Linked DNA regions of Homo sapiens. The protein of the gene in region 1 purifies or fractionates together with the protein of each later gene. This does not show direct contact. Each region holds a gene or a part of one and is shown in the gene's direction. Other genes may lie near its edges. The genes, in order: MYO10 and TRIO.

Evidence for each region.
Region 2: the proteins of MYO10 (region 1) and TRIO purify together in Homo sapiens (affinity purification with mass spectrometry; 2 studies listed by BioGRID and IntAct, with this or other methods). This does not show direct contact.

Annotation. Positions count from the first base shown.
Region 1 is NC_000005.10:16,931,729-16,941,942, reverse strand, and holds the start of MYO10 (unconventional myosin-X), read left to right. Parts: upstream 1-5,654; 5' UTR 5,655-6,134; coding exon 6,135-6,155; intron 6,156-10,214. UniProt on the Homo sapiens protein: Myosins are actin-based motor molecules with ATPase activity. Unconventional myosins serve in intracellular movements. MYO10 binds to actin filaments and actin bundles and functions as a plus end-directed motor.
Region 2 is NC_000005.10:14,482,342-14,489,341, forward strand, and holds part of TRIO (triple functional domain protein), read left to right. Parts: intron 1-240; coding exon 241-432; intron 433-2,727; coding exon 2,728-2,905; intron 2,906-5,122; coding exon 5,123-5,919; intron 5,920-7,000. UniProt on the Homo sapiens protein: Guanine nucleotide exchange factor (GEF) for RHOA and RAC1 GTPases. Involved in coordinating actin remodeling, which is necessary for cell migration and growth. Plays a key role in the regulation of neurite outgrowth and lamellipodia formation.

The DNA of each region.
Region 1 (10,214 bases):
TCGGCAGCACAAATACTAAAATTAAAGCAAGACAGAGAGAAGATTAGCATGGCCCCTGTTCAAGGATGACATACAAATTCATGAAGCAGTTTATATTTAAAAAATATATATGTTGAAAACTTTTCAGGCCAGTCACGGTGGCTCACGCCTGTAATCCCAGCACTCTGGGAGGTCGAGGCGGGTGGATTACCTGAGGTCAGGAGCTTGAGACCAGCCTGGCTAACATGGTGAAACCCTGTCTCTACTAAAAATTCAAAAAATTAGCTGGGCATGGTGGCGGGCACCTGTAGTCCCAGCTGCTCAGCAGTCTGAGGCAGGAGAATCACTTGAACCTAGGAAGCCGAGGTTGCAGTGAGCGGAGATCACGCCATTGCACTCCAGCTTGGGCGACAAGAGTGAAACTCGGTCTCAAGAAAATAAAATAAAATAAATTATTTTTGGCTGGGCGCGGTGGCTTACGCCTGTAATCCCAGCACTTTGGGAGGCGGAGGCGGGCAGATCACCAGGTCAGAAGATGGAGACCATCGTGGCTAACATGGTGAAATCCCGTCTCTACTAAAAAAATACAAAAAAATTAGCTGGGTGTGGTGGCAGGGGCCTGTAGTCCCAGCTACTCCAGAGGCTGAGGCAGGAGAATGGCGTGAACCCGGGAGGCGGAGCTTGCAGTGAGCTGAGATCGCGCCACTGCACTCCAGCCTGGGCAACAGAGCGAGACTCTGTCTCAAGACTCCCAGCCTCCTCAGTAGCTGGGACAACAGGCGCCTGGCTAATTTTTTGTATTTTTAGTAGAGATGGGGTTTCACTGGGTTAGCCAGGATGGTCTCGATCTCCTGACCTCGTGATCCGCCCGACTCGGCCTCCCAAAGTGCTGGGATTACAGGTGTGAGCCACCACGCCCGGCAATTATTTTCATTTTTAATTATTATCAATACATAGTGTATATATTTATGGGGTACATGTAATGTGTGGATACAGGCATACAATGTGTAATAATTGCATTATTTGTAATTGTGATTAGGGTATTCATCGCCTCAAGAATTTATCATTTCTTTGTGTTATGAACATTACAATTCCACCCTTTTAATTAATTAAAAATATGCAATAAATTATTGTTGCTGTAGTCACCCTGTTGTGCTATCAAATACTAGTTCTTCATTCATCCTATTAAGAAAAAGTTGTATTTGCTGTTATCTGATGCCTAACAAAAAAAATAAGTACATAAATACGTAAAATAATTTTAAGATAGGAACAACAGAATATTAAACCAAGCGTGAGGAGCTTAGGGCTCTATACAATTAACTATATGGGTTGCACACCTATGAAGCTTGCCCTGAAGCTAAGAAGTTAAAGAATTTTTAAAGAGGGGAATGTCAAGGAGAGTGAAATTGGAAAACAGGCTGTTGAATTTGATGATTTGAGGTTACAGAGACTTTCAAGAGAGTGGGGTGGGGGACAAAAATCAGATCATGAGGGGTTTAAGGGTTGATTGCTTGGAGGATGAAGTACAGCAGTGAGAAGTTGGGCATTTGAAGAGAGATGGTCCAGTAGTTCAGAGAGCAATTGGGTTAACGAGCAGCTGTTTTCAAATAGAGCCGACACGATCTTGTTTATTGGCTTGGATACTGAGTGGGAAAGGCTGAAGATGCAAGCAAGAGGAATAAGTGAGGACACAAGGTTTGGAAGTGGCAAACATGTTGTGATTAACAATAATGGTAGAGAGATGATAAACTTTGCAGTCAGTCTCTGAGCCACCCTGGAGTAATGGAAGAGAGAGGGTCATAAAGACACAAAAACATCAAGAGAGAAAGCGAGATGTCAAACATAGCTCCGAGCGGGCTTAATCATTAGGCAGCTTTTCAGGGTTTCAGGGATTTTTGTACTTTTTCTTTATTATACGCAACAGGACCAGCCCCAAACATGAAAACTGATTAATTTGTGAAACTAACACTCCATGATTTTTGTAGGCTATCAGCTGTAGGAGGCATTCTTGCTGTAGTTTGAAGTGATGGGGATTTAGTTAGAATTAACTGTCCATCACATGCTCTCTAATGAGGTGAATGACATCCTTGCCCTAGCTCATCTTGTAGAGAAATACAACCGCTGGCAGAAATGAGTTCTTCCAGTGTCTTCTCCCCATTTTAGTTCTATGTTTATTCTTCTGTACTTACTTCTATTACAATGTGAAACATTTCAGGTATTTTCTCCCAAATTTATTCTATTGAAACCACCTACAATTGTTTTCAGTTTCAGCAGAAAAAAATTCCCTTGAGGATTTCTGAATGCTAAGGTATGAGAAATAAAAGAAACACTTGTGTAAAAATTTAAATCACATTAAAAAAATTCCCTTTTGTTTGAGAAGGTAAAAACATTTGATGTTTTAAACATCCAAGAGGGTAAGTGAGCCCAAAGGATGGACTGCTGTTTAGTTAAGCATGAAAGGACTTTAGAATTGTCAGTTATTAACTTCTAATTTGTGTGAAAGAAACTTTGAGAACTTTCCCTTTCTATAACTAGTAATTAAGCCATTATTCTAACAGGGGCAATTAAGGGGTGAGTGTTTAATAAAAAAAAAAGATAATGGAAAAGACTCTACGCCCCAAGACACATCAAGACAAGGAATGGCAGCAGCAGCAACAACAAAAGGAACTCAGTTTGAATTCACAAAGGAAATGAGACAACCCGTTTCAACTAAAAACGAACAAACTGTTGGTGGAGAACAAAAACAGAAGATTGTTATTACTTAACTCACAAATATACATATGCAACTCTCTCTTTCAGTGGGGAAATGATCCAATCAGTATTAAAATTTTGTTGATTGTAGATTAATGTATGCCACTAAATAAGATAACTTAACTTGAGCTTTTGGGGGTGTTTTATTTTGAAAATGTCATACTCTGTTAGCCTGGTTTATTTGAAAGACAGGTAGGACAGAGAGTTGAGACAGACCTTTGCCTCATGGAAACACACTCATCCTTCTATTATTACCATTCTTGTGCCTCTGTCGCTTCTCAGAGGGCAGGGTTTAATAGATTTGGTCTAAACTGCTTTGTCCAGTGGTTAGCACAACTCTCTCAGAGGAAGCACTCAAATTTTAAGAAATGGTAATAAGACTAGATATTCTTAGAAATCTATTGATTTAAAATGCTTCCCAGTCTCTGTCCAATCCTGTCAAAGCCCTTATAAATTTAACACGCTGCTTTTTAACAACTGATTCAACCCCAGATACTTGAGGGTTAGATATCTTATTTAGAACATGCATTTTGCTGTTCAGCAAGTAAGAGTTTCGCTGCCACAGCTTATCTTACACCTTTTTGAGAATATGGGGATATATAGAAAAGCTGATGAATTCTGATAAAGTGGCGATTCCCAAGCTCTGAACTGGTTATCGGGGTGCTTATTAAAATGCAAATTCTTTCAATATAATCCACAGGTAAAGAAATAAAAAATGCAAATTCTTAGGAAATCAATTTGCCACAGAGATTTGGAGTCAGTTTTTTTTTCTTTTTAGCAACTGATAAGGTGATCTAGGGATCAACATTGATAAAACATTGATGTAAGTTTTTTTTTTTAACTTTCTTACCCTGTTAACTGATGATGTAAGCTTTTTGAAGAAATAAAATGATTCAGTAAAATCTAAACTTTATATATTGGATCTGGCTCACCATTCTTTACGTGAGTCAAATTGGGGGCAATTATTAACGATATCTTCATAATTGGCAGGAAAATCACCTTTAAAAGATTAGTAGACTTTAAAAAAACAGTTTTAGGCTTACATAAAAATTGGCCAGAAAGTACAGAGAGTGTCCATAGACCCCTCCCAGCCCCTCACCCTCACTTGCCCCTATTATTAACATGTTGCATTAGTGTGGTACATTTGTTATAACTGATGAGCCGATATGGAAAGTGACTTTTGAAATGACATGGCGAGGTTGCCCAACGTATCAGTGGCTGGGCTGATGCTGGGAACCACGTCACACCCACACACTCACTTCAACAATCTCCCTGGTAATTTCTCTGGCAGAGATGTTGTGTGCAGATTAATACCATAATGACTGTAATTGTTCTGCTCCAGTATCTGAACACCAGTGGTTGCAGGACCCATTTGACTAAGCACTGGGATTGTTGGTATTTATCCTGACTCCATCTTCACTTTCCTTGCGACCTTGGACACAAGCTTTAATGGCTCAGCGCCTTAAGCGTGTAAACCTGTGAAACAGAACAACATTGCACAATATCATTAACTAATTTACACCTTGACTCTTTCTAAAGGGAAGTGAGGTGGGAGCAATGATATTAATGGTGAAGAACTGGACTGGGATAAGTTACAAACATGCTTGACTTTCCCCATAAGGATTACAGAAGGATGTTTCATTCATTCATTCATGCTGTGAGACAGCCTGGGGATACTCATCTTAAAGCACAGTCCTTCCCCAACAGTCTTAGGAATAAATCCTAGAGTGGGCATCTAGCCCAGTGGTTACGGGGAGCTTGGGTGGGGTGAGTGGAGTAGCATCTTTGGGAAGGGTTCCTTCCCCTGGAAGGTGTGACTTTGTGAGCTGAGTTTTAAAGGTTGAGTAGCAGTTGGCAAATTCCCTGGAGAGAGCATCTCAAATCTTTTGTGCTGAAGAACCAGCCATTTTTGTTCCCAGTCGGCCAGGTACCAATACACTGCGGCGCCAGGTGTGACTCACCACGTGAGTCTGACAACACCCAAACTGGTTTATACTCGGTTCAAAGAGTCCACTGATCATGTGCTTGGATGTCGTGGCATTATTAAATTGCTACAAACGTTTACTCTTAATTTCTCTACTTGTTACAAGCTTTCGTTCAGCACAGGACCAGGTAGCACCTGAGGGGCACCTGGAAAGCAGATTGTTCCAGCCTGCGTTCTAACAAGGTTCCCAGGTGACCCTCGCACAGCATAAAGTTAAAAGAACTGCCCTAGGGGAAACGGGACTCAGTGCCAGGTGGGTTTGATCATTCGTCCATCTCAGTGCCATCTGCCATCTCTGCTTCCTTGAGGTCTAGAAAAGGGTTACATTTTTAAAGGTGATATTGGCCACGTCCCCTTCCAGTTTCAAAACTACATTTCCCCGCTGTTACGCAAACGTCTTAAGCAAACCCGACTGCAGGACAGAAAGTCAACACGGGAATGCAGCTTCCAGAAATTCTGATTAGCCTCCGTCTTCCGCTTTGATCTGGCCCCGCAGCCCCGGCAGCTCCGCTGACCGCGCTTCCTTCCCGAGATTGCTAGTCTACCGGGCTGCATTAATGAGATCCGTGTTGAGCCGGTTCCCGGGTCTGCTAAACATGAAAGGCACAGAAGCCCCCAGTCCCTTCTCCTCCCCTCTAAGTGATTGTTTAGTCTCTCTCTGCAGAGGGAAGAGTTAAATCCCCTCCCCACGCCTACGTGGGAAGACCTGGGGAAACACGCGGCCCCCTCCCGGGTCCGCTAACGAGCCTGCGGCTGCTTCGGGCTTAGAGTGGGCGGGGCCTGGTCGGGAAGGGGGCGGGGCGCTCCGCCCGGGCGGGGCCAGACGGTGTGGTTGGCGGAGGGCCAAGCTCCTGGGGGCGGGGCCGCGAGCGGGAGGGCGGGGCCGGCTGCGGGAGGGCGGGGCCGGCTGCGGGAGGGCGGGGCGAGGTCGCTGGGCTGTAGTCCCGCGGGCGAGAGCTGGCTGAGCCGCGGCGCGGGACTGCTCACCTCCAAGCGCTCGCGCGGGGATCGCGGCTCCTGCTCACTTTGCGGCCCGCTGTCCTCCTGCCCGCCCCGAGGGCCCCCGGCCGGAGCGCAGAGGGAGGGGGCCGCGCTCGCCAGCACCCCGCCGCCTTCCCCCGCCTGGGGGAAGAATGTGCCACCAGCTGTTCTCCGCTTGCGAGCGCTGCGCCCAGTAGTGAGGAACTTGGAGGAAGAAGAGACAAAGGCTGCCGTCGGGACGGGCGAGTTAGGGACTTGGGTTTGGGCGAACAAAAGGTGAGAAGGACAAGAAGGGACCGGGCGATGGCAGCAGGGGAGCCCCGCGGGCGCGCGTCCTCGGGAGTGGCGCCGTGACACGCATGGTTTCCCCGGACCCGCGGCGGCGCTGACTTCCGCGAGTCGGAGCGGCACTCGGCGAGTCCGGGACTGCGCTGGAACAATGGATAACTTCTTCACCGAGGTAAGTGCGCTCCCAGTCCGACCTGGCCTCCGGAGCCCAGGGAGAGAGGCGTCTGCCCACCACGCCGCGCGCCCTGGGTACTTTTTCCTAAGCCCTGGAAGGCGCAACTTTCTGGGAGTCTCCTGAAATCACCCCCCATCCCCCCGCGGAGTCTCTGATGAGTAAGCCCGGGCAGGTTTTGTTTCGTCCTGTCCCGCGCTCGCATTTTGCTCCGGGAGGTAGCGAAGGTGCGTTTCCGTTTGCGTGGGTGGCTGGCTCTCGGGGCGCCCTGGGACACCCGCGCCAGGTGAGGCGGCGCGCGCCGGGGCGCGGGCGGGGCGATCCGCCCGCTCGACTGCCCGGGTGCAGGAAGCCCAATAAAATGTTCAGCGGGGACCTGCCTTTCTCCAAGAAAGGTCTTGTCTGGTATTTCCTTTGCAAAACGTGCGGGCTTCCTGTGCAGGGGTTCAAACACTTCCAGAGGAGACGGCTTAATGAAGTGTGAGAAGGAGAGGCAAGGGTTTAATCGGTTACTTTGCTCGCCGAGAAGTGCTCTTTTAAGGCTTGGGATAACTCCAGACCCTGGGATCAAATGATCATGTATTTGTGTAGAGTGTCCATGCAGATTTTGAATTCGAATGTAAAGAAAATTCGTTTAGGGCAAACAGTGGCTATTTTAATAGATGAAACGGATGCCCTCTTTAGGGTCGTTGAGGGTGGGACACTGAAACTTAACTTGAGAACCCTTTTTCCCCCTTTGGGATCGAGACTTACTGTGGTTTCTTGGCTCCCTTTCCTTTCTTGGTTGTGTTTATTTAATAAATTCTGTTTAAGTTTGAGGTTTGAAGTGGCTCAAAGTAAACTTAGTTGACTTGAGAGAGTCTGATGTGATTTTCGTTGAAAGCCAGGGAATGTTTTCTGAGTGCAGAACCGCTTTGGAGTCTTCCAGCAAATCAGATTGATGAGGGCTTGCCTCTGTGTTAGCCGACTTGGTTTATCTGATTTAATTGGATATAATATTTCAAGTCATTCTGCTTTCTGCATGCTCACTGACTGTATTCTCAGACAGCTATTCATACTGGCCAAAGTGATAAATGCATTCTTGTTTAGTAGTCATATCTAGTTTTTAAAAGTGGTGTTTCAGATGTGATACCCACATTCATTGTGGAAGGAAGACTAGAAAGGAATTATCCATCAATACATATTTTTCCTTTTCTTAAAAAAAGTGAAATATATATAATTGTGAGACGCTCGCATTTTCTAGTCCATAGACTTTTGTTTTCATGCTTGTCGAAAGGCACCAGAACTTTCTGCAAGAGTTGCACGTTGTCCAGTGGTAAAGGACCCTCGGGCTACAGTGAGTTCCGGTGTTTAATTGCTTGCATCTGTAAGAAAACGGAGGCCCTGCCCCTAGGGCAATGATTCTTAACTTTGTTGTTTTTGTGTTCTGGGTCCCTTAGAAAATCTGATGAAAATATAGAAATTTGTATTCAGTTTGCACGGATCTCACTCCTCCTGTAGCCTGTCTGAGCACCACAGGGGTCCGTGGCTCCCCCTTGGGGAGAACTCTGCCCCCTAGTGCAAGTGGGGGGAACATCAGGATAACGCGCTACAGCGTCCTGATCTCCTGTTACCCGGTGAGACTTTGACTTTTCAAAGTACTCTTTTCATCTTGCACTGGATACCTTAGTTCAGTGTAAGGGGCCTGGTTGTTGGATTTTATTTCTGTGATCAATATTATTTTGCAGTTGGCCATTAGTGATCTTCTACTTTCTCCTCTTCATTTTGTAGACAGAATCTTAACCCAAAGATATGAGTAAGTCCCTTGCCCAGCTTTGAAGAGCTTGTTCACGAATCCAGAGCCTTTTTCCTTTGCTGCTGGTGACTTTGGTATTTCTGGGAACTTTTCGCTTATTTTAAGGTTATACTTTTAATCTTGTGATGTATGTGTATTACAATATTAACTTCTAATCAGCCGTGAAAGTTCCACCCTTAAATCTAATCACTTTGAGTGGGAAGGAAGCAGGGCCAGTCAGAGAGGTTAAATAGTGAGGTATTAATTGTAGACATACTCTTAACATAGATCCCAGCTCCCCTTTCTCTCTCTCATGTCTTGTAATGGAGCATCCTTTTGTTAAATTGTCCAGTGAAGAAAATGCTGTAATTAATGTCCTGTTAGAATAGAAACAGCGAGTGTGGAAGTGATATATTCCCCAAGGACAGCTAAATTGTTTGGCCTCCTTATCACTAAGTAGAATTCTGTCTTTGCTAACTTTTCCCATTGTGGCTTAGGGGTAAATGACTTGTTGCTTGTTGGACAACAGTTTAAAGCCAGTGCTAACAATTGGGGAAAAATTACTGAATGAGATGTTGCCTGTTTAGCTTTGTGTATGAATGGCCAAATAATAAGGAAATGGGAGCTGCTTGTGATTCGCAACTGCTATTTCTAGCTAGACCAGGGTTTCTCAAACCTGGTACCATTGCTGAGTAATTCTTTGTTGTTGGAGGCCGTCCTGTGTGTTGTAGGAGGTTAAACGCATCCCTGGACTCTACTCAGTAATTGTTAACCCTATCCCCCAAGTTGTGACAACCCGAAAGGTCTGCAGACATTGCTGAATGACAGGGGAGCAAAATCACTCCCAGTTGAGATCCACTGAGCTAGACCTGTGAAGCAGTTGTTTGGCGGTATTAATTCCTATTTGTGTTGCAGGCACAGCCTTGTCTGCGCTTCCCTGTTTTAAATAGGATTTGGCCGGGTGCGGTGGCTCAAGCCTGTAATCCCAGCACTTTGGGAGGCTGAGGTGGGAGGACTGCTTGAGCCCAGGAGTTCAAGACCAGCCGGGGCAACATGGTGAAACCTCATCTCTACAAAACTTAGCTGAGTGTGGTGGTATGCACCTGTAGTTCCAGCCATTCTGGAGGCTGAGGTGAGCCCAGGAGGTCCAGGCTGCAGTGAACCATGATTGCACCGCTGCGCTCCAGAGCAACAGACCCTGTGTCACAAAATAGATAGACTCTTACTGCCTGCTAGATTGATTGATTAATTAGATAGATAGTGTCTTACTGCGCGCCAGGGGGAAGCTTGCAAAGCTTGTGCCAGTCAGCTGACAGCTGCTGACTTCAAAATGTTCTCCAGGATTAGAGAAACTGAGCATGCCACATTCCTCAGTTTCAGTTTCTTCATGGCCTTCATTAGAATTTTATGGCTCCCCTCGAGTTAATTGTGTGTATGCTTTGGGGAAGCTTGTTTTTTCAGCATTTCTAAGTAAGTTGTTAAGTTTACTTCAGCCAGAAACTAAGTTTAGATGTGTCTGTAACCAGAAGCAATAATAATAAAAAAAGCAAACAGAAAAGGCTCAACCAGGAAAGGGGCAAGGCTACTGTGCAAACTTGTGTTGATGTGCTGAAGTGGACACTGTTTTCATGTCTTCAGGGCCAAGTACAGTGCCTGGAATATAGTAGGGGCCAGTAAGTACCAAATGAAATTGACCTTTCTGTTTCCCTGTTAGGCAGAGGTGTGATGTGTCTGTTCAAATACAAGATCTCGGAGGATTATTAGTGAGACTAATCAAACACCTTGATTTTCAGAATAAATATGTAAAATGTACACAAGTAAGATACTCACAAATACAAATACAGAAAGCAGGTATTAATGTTTAAGGGATAAATTGTTAGTGGAAAATATTCCAGACATACCTGTTTCTTCCAGTCTGGTTCACTCTGGATTAGAGCAGACTTCATTCTAAAGACGTTAAGTGGAAACACCAACCTCTTCTACTTAACTTGACAAGGGACTGTGGTTGTGGTTGGTTATCTGGAGTTGTTCAAATAGCTTTTTAAGTGAGTAGAGTTCCCAAGCCAATTTTCTCCCCATTTGGTTGTATATTTTTTTTGTTTGTGATCTATTGACATCTTTTCTTGTTAGAGAAAAATGTGGACATTGTTATTTTTGGCAGCTTTCTCTCCTCACCCTCGATATGTCTCCATGTGTAAAGGGGAACTGCTGAGGACTTCTTGTATCACCAATTCCTGAAGGCAACCCCTTTGATGACTATAAAATCATATCAGGAGATTAGCTGG
Region 2 (7,000 bases), 2.5 Mb from region 1:
TAATCTGTGACTGTAATTGAGGCGCCAGAGGTCTATACAAATGTTGGCAAGAATTTTATTTAGATAATTATTCTGTTTAGAGCCAAGAACAGTAAAAGAAAAAAAAAATTAAACTCCATAAATTAATAAAAGAAAAATACATTATTCCATAGGAGGAAATCTAAAGAAAACAGCTTCAGATAACTTAGAAGGCAATGTTTTCTTCTCCCCTTCCTTTTCCCCCTTTATTTCTTGTTTTAGGGGAAAATCGTTGCCCAGGGTAAACTGCTCTTGCAGGACACATTCTTGGTCACAGACCAAGATGCAGGACTTCTGCCTCGCTGCAGAGAGAGGCGCATCTTCCTCTTTGAGCAGATCGTCATATTCAGCGAACCACTTGATAAAAAGAAGGGCTTCTCCATGCCGGGATTCCTGTTTAAGAACAGTATCAAGGTAACGTGTGTCTCTGTGTGATTTCTCTGTGCCAGCGCATGTACCCGTCACACCGATACACTGTTTCCTTTTAATGATGACATACCCTGATGCTTCGTTTAAGTATTTGAGAATTTTCTAGTATATTTCAGAGCCTTGAATTCACCCCATTTCTCTTTTTACTGTCTGTGTTCTTGAGTGGCTGATGTCTTGTACACACCTCTGTGTAACCACAGCCATTCATTCTTACCATGATGAGAACTGGTCATGGGTAGTGTTTATGCACCCCCTTCTCTAGGACCGAGGAAAACTGGTTTAAATTTGATAGCACGGATTTGGGGGATTGCTCTATGATCAGAGAAAAAGTTCACTCGGTGTCTTCTTCTCTTCCTCCACTCACCAAGGAGGTACTGAGCACTCAGCAACAGGCGTGAGGGCTCCAGGAATGGCCCAGCTGGATGCCCTCCCTGCCCTGATGTAGCTTATCCTCTAATAGGAAAGGAAGACAGAGGGACAAAGAAAATAATTGCCAATGGCCCTCAAGTCTGTAAAAGGGACAAACCAAGGGTGAGGTAGAGAAGAGCAGAGGGCAGGCCTGAGGTCCCAGCAGATGACTCCTGGGAGATACATGCCCCCGCCAGGGTCCTCCTGGCTCTGCAGCTGTGCAGACCCTGAGGTCAGAAGGGAGATGTACTTCCCTTTGGTAGGGCCTCCTGCCCTACGCCATCAGGGACAGGGAACTCTCAGACCGTGCACACCTGCGGGCCTCACAGCACACAGGCAGAACATTGCGTCCTCCCCCATCCGACTCTCCGTTCAGGCTTTTGTTGGCTGTCCCCAGCAGCCTCCATTTGCCTAAACCTGGGGTGGGTCTGTCCGTGGGCACAGGTGCCAGGCTGGGGGCCTCTGCCCACCAGCACCTAGGAGGGCTCTGGAGCCAAACAGCTGGAGAAGGAGGCCGCCTCTGCATGAGGCTGGGCTGCGGGCCCTCGCACCTCCCACCACCCGCCTGCCCCTCCAGACTCCGCCTTTTGAGGCCCCTCACCCTGAGGCCATGTCAGGCACAGACCCTCTGGGCTCACCACTACACTTGAGCCTCCCATCCCCTGAACTGTGCGCCCATCCCCTGGACGGCAGCCATCATCTGAACTGTGCACCCATGCCCTGAACTGTGCACCCATACGCTGAACTGCACCCATACGCTGAGCCGCACCCATCCCTTGGACTGCAGCCATCATCTGAACTACACCCATCCCCTGCACTGCACCCATCCCCTGAGAACCACCCATCCCCTGCACTGCACCTATCCCCTGAGAACTGCACTCATCCATCCCGGGCACTGCACTCATCCATCCCCTGCACTGCACCCATCCCCTGAGAACTGCCTACCCATTCTTCTCACAAGTCTTTTGGCAGAAAATCACTCCAGCACTGTAGGAATTTCGTATATATTTTTTACATATTTTTATAAAATTATTTGACATATTTTAATCATGATATCACATACAATTTTATAACATAGGTTTTAGTGATATTTGAGATTTGTTTAATGGTGTCATTTACTCCCTGGGAAGTAAGTAAGGATAAATACTGAGGCATCATAGAGGGGTTTGGGAAACAGGTAATCCCAGACGCATATTTCTAGTTAATTGTTCAGGCTGTTAGTTCAAACTATTAGTTTAACAGCCTTGTATTCCCCATGTACCTGAGTTAAGAGGCATTAAAAAGCTTCAGATGTTTTCTGAGGCAGTAAAAATGGCAGTTCAACTGAAAAGTGCTTGTTTCAGGATTGAGTTAGGATGAACTTCACTTTGCACTTGGCCAGTGGGGATCAATGTGCTTTAATTTTTTGTTGTGGTAAAATACACATAACATAAATGTTCCATCTTTAATTACCTAGCTCCATGGGATTAAGAACATTCATGTTTTGCAGCCATCACCATCATCTGTCTTCACAACTCTTCATCTTGCAGAGCTAAAGCCCTGTACCCATTAAACAGTAACTCCCCACTTCCCCACCCCCAAGCCCCTGGCAACCTCCACTCTACTTCCTATCCCCACATTTGACTACTCTAAGGACTTCCTGTAAGTGGAATCATAACAATAGTTGTATTTTGAGACTGGCATATTTCACTTAACATAACGTCTTCAAGGTTCATCCATGTCGTATTGTGTGTCGGAATTTCTTTCCTCATTAAGGCTGAAAAACTGTCCACATAGCCCACATTTTCTTTGTCCATTCATCGGTCAGTGGACACATGGTTTGCTTCCTTTCCACCTGTTAGCTATTATGAATAATGTTTTTTTTTTTTTAAGGTGAGTTGCCTTTGCCTGGAGGAAAATGTGGAAAATGATCCCTGTAAATTTGCTCTGACATCGAGGACGGGTGACGTGGTAGAGACCTTCATTTTGCATTCATCTAGTCCAAGTGTCCGGCAAACTTGGATCCATGAAATCAACCAAATTTTAGAAAACCAGCGCAATTTTTTAAATGGTAATGTGTGTTCTGTTACTAGATGTGTGCTTTCTTTCCTCGTGTACTCACTTGTATTTATCTTCCCTCTCCCATTCATATCCATAGTAATGACAGAACTTAGCACTCACCACTCTTCAGGCACTGCCTAGATATTGCTTTATTTCATCTTCACAACCACCCTGTGTGGCCAGTACTATTATTATTCCTGCTTTACAGATGAGAAAGCTGGGGCACTGAGCGGCTGAGTAATTTGCTTCGAGTCCCACAAGTTGTTGAGGGCAGAGTCAGGACACAGAGTGGCCATCTGGCTCTTGGTCTGTGCCCCTCGCAGCTACACTGTCCCACACATAACATGTACGAGGGCCCAGTCCTAGGAAGAGGAGTTTGCGAGAACACGAGATGGCATTGGCCAGAGACATTCACGAGGGCCTTGCACACCCACACCTCCTTTCCCCATTAAAAAAATAAGAGATGGGGCCAAGCATGGTGGCTCAAGCCTATAATCCCAGCACTTTGGGAGGCCAAGTTGGGCAGATCACCTGAGGTCAGGAGTTTGAGACCAGCCTGACCAACATGGAGAAACCCTGTCTCTACTAAAAATACAAAAAAATTAGCCGGGCGTGGTGGCGCATGCCTGTAATCCCAGCTACTCAGGAGGCTGAGGCAGGAGAATCACTTGAACCCAGGAGGCGGAGATCGTGGTGAGCTGAGATCGCACCATTGCACTACAGCCTGGGCAACAAGAGTGAAACTCTGTCTCAAAAAAAAAAAAAGAGACGGTTCAGTACTTCCCTGCTTCCGTGACTTGAGGGATTGCAGAGATGCTGCAGAACACAGCGGGCGTGGCCACACTACCCTTCCATTGCCTCTTAATGTATTTGATCTCTTTGCAAATGTTGGCTTCAACACTGGCTTTTAATTTGGTGATCAGCAAAGAACTTTGAGAATTCAGTCCGAAGCTATGTGCCCATGTCATCTGTGTCTTCTGGGTTCTTTGCTTCATGTTCGTATTCACGGTCTGCATCTATGCCTGCTCAAGCTCAATAGGATGTTGTAATGTTCTCTGTCACAAGAAAGCCACCTCTACACCTTGCGTGATGTTCAAGAGCCAGGAACATAGGCACTCAGTGAAAAATCTCAAGCCTCATGGCATTTTTAGCCAAGTGTTATGTGCTGCCTGGGTGTTAACTCCAAGTTTCCATCCTGCTTGCAAGCTGATAATCATTTACATCTGCAGCTAGGGGTGGGCGCTTGAGGATAGGGAGGCACAGTTCCTCAGGTGCGAAGAGGTTCAATGTGGTGTTCTTATGTGGTGCATTGAGTTCCAATCCATAGCTTGGAATTGAGAATGCTCTAAATTTTCATCATTGTCTTTAAAATAGAATGAACTGCCCCCAGATTGCACGCATGGTCTGTGATGTCAGAGTTTACTTGACACCCACTCAGTTGAGTAACTAGTAATACCTATCCCAGAGGATTAAAGGAGATCGCTCATGGGCTGGGAGCTTGGGACCCTTTCACCTGCTTCTTGCACACCCCTTAGTCCTGGAAGAGGCTGTGGCCAGCACAGAGTTTGTAGACTGCCTCTGGCTCCTCAACGCTTGCTCACACATGCCTGGGGCTGGGGCTGGGGGGCTGCATCTGCTTGTCGTATTTTTCAAAGGCTTTAACACTTCAAGAGTTTGTGCATGTTTCCATACATGTTATTTTGGCCTGATTTCTGTGTTTTTCTACAATGAAGATGTAAGAAAACTCAGGCACCCAAGTCAAGAGATGGGACAGCCTCCCGCTCCAGGGGCCTCTAGTAGCTCCTTAGCTTCCCTCAGGGCTGTGTTCAGCCTGCAGAGCAGAGGTGGTCTATGAAACCGCCTCCACGGCAGCCCCAGGGTTTCTTTTTCACCCCAGGACTCTGGTTTAGGAAAGACCTTTGCGGAAGCCAGTTGGTAGCTGGAGGAGTTCTAGTCAAATCTGTTGCCTTGGTCTTCCTGTGGACACTGGCCCTTAGTCCGGGATGTGCTGAGGAATGCGGCCCCTTCCACCCGCTGCACTCAGCCGGCATCCCAATACCTTGGCAAGCAGGGGCCTCTTCTAGCTCTCCTGATGGGTGGGGTTGCTCTGCGCCCCTGCACGGGGTCTGCCCCATGACCCATCCCAGGGTGGGCCCTGTTCCTCCCTCACCCCGCGGCGTGCTCCTTGGCGCCCTGACCCAGTCTCTCCCGCTGTCTTGTCTTACAGCCTTGACATCGCCAATCGAGTACCAGAGGAACCACAGCGGGGGCGGCGGCGGCGGCGGCAGCGGGGGCAGCGGCGGGGGTGGGGGCAGCGGCGGCGGCGGGGCCCCCAGTGGCGGCAGCGGCCACAGTGGCGGCCCCAGCAGCTGCGGCGGCGCCCCCAGCACGAGCAGGAGCCGGCCCTCCCGGATCCCCCAGCCTGTCCGACACCACCCCCCCGTGCTGGTCTCCTCTGCAGCCTCGAGCCAGGCAGAGGCAGACAAGATGTCAGGTACGTCCACCCCCGGGCCCTCCCTGCCTCCCCCTGGCGCGGCCCCCGAGGCCGGCCCCAGCGCGCCCAGCAGGCGGCCCCCCGGCGCGGACGCCGAGGGGTCCGAGCGAGAAGCGGAGCCGATCCCCAAGATGAAGGTGCTGGAGAGCCCCAGGAAAGGCGCCGCGAACGCCTCGGGGTCGAGCCCAGACGCCCCCGCCAAGGACGCGCGCGCTAGCCTGGGCACCCTGCCGCTTGGGAAGCCCCGGGCCGGGGCCGCTTCGCCGCTGAACTCGCCGCTCTCCAGCGCGGTCCCTTCTCTCGGCAAGGAGCCCTTCCCCCCCAGCAGCCCCCTGCAGAAGGGGGGCTCCTTCTGGAGCTCCATCCCCGCCTCCCCCGCCAGCCGACCCGGCTCCTTCACCTTCCCGGGGGACAGCGACTCCCTCCAGCGGCAGACACCCCGCCACGCGGCCCCTGGCAAGGATACTGACCGCATGAGCACGTGCTCCTCGGCCAGCGAGCAGTCCGTGCAGTCCACCCAGAGCAACGGGGTAAGCGCGTCGGGGGGCCCGCGCCCTCCCGCCCCCCTGCCTCTGTCCCGCCAGCTCTAAACGCCACCGCGGCTGTTCTCACTAACTCGGCTGCCCAGCGCTCTCCGCCGCCCGTTGCGGCCTCTACCTGGGACCAGGCTAACCCTCCTGCGGGCCGGCCCACGGCGCTACTAACTACTCCTTGCTTTGTTCGTGTCTTCTAATAAGAGCAAGCCGATCATTAACCTTCTCAACGCAGCGTCTTTTGGTTTCTTCCATTTCCAACCAGCAGAATATCTTCTTGGAACTTTCTTTTTTAACCTCTGCCTTCCTCACGCACCTATTTTTTGGAGGGTTCCTTTTCCCTGCTCTCTACCTCCTGTTTAAATTGAAACCTGTACACTTTAAGCTTTTTGCTCATCGCTTGGTTTTGCTCTTTTATGCCTTAAATTATCTTTGCGGCATTTTTGACTCATCTGCTGGGGAAGACCATTCCCTCAAGAAAACTTCCAACAGCAACTCAAAGCAAACTAAGATGAAAAAATGGGGGGAAAGAATCTGTCCACTGGGAACGCTTTACGTCACCGTGTTGCTCTGGAAGACAGAGACTGCTCTGGGCACCTGGCGAGGCGGCTCTGCAGTGCAGGCTGGGGCCGGTCCCTGCGGCCTGCTGGGCTCTGGCCTCGTTTGGCCCATCACTCATGCTGCCGTCTCAAGCACAAGGGTTGCTGTGGTGGGTTTTCCCTCTGTTTCCTGCTTCCTCACTGTCCTACCCACCTGTTTCCTACAGGGCAGATGGCCTGGCCCGTAACACTTTCCTGAAGGCATGCGTGAGTGAATAGAACTGTTCTAATGAGTGTATGTTTGAACGCTTTATAAATTTTTAAATACATTTCTCTAAAAGGGTCTGTGTCTCTCTTTATATTAAAAAAAAAATCTAGCTTTTGCATGTCTTTCTCTTTCCTCTGGACTTATTAATGCCTTAATTGGTTTGACTTGGTCTTATCCTTTCCTACTATTTTTTGTTATGTATTTTGTTAAACTTTAATTGGGGAAGAAATTAACAAATGGGTCTTGATACATTTATTTACAGTTGAAGTGG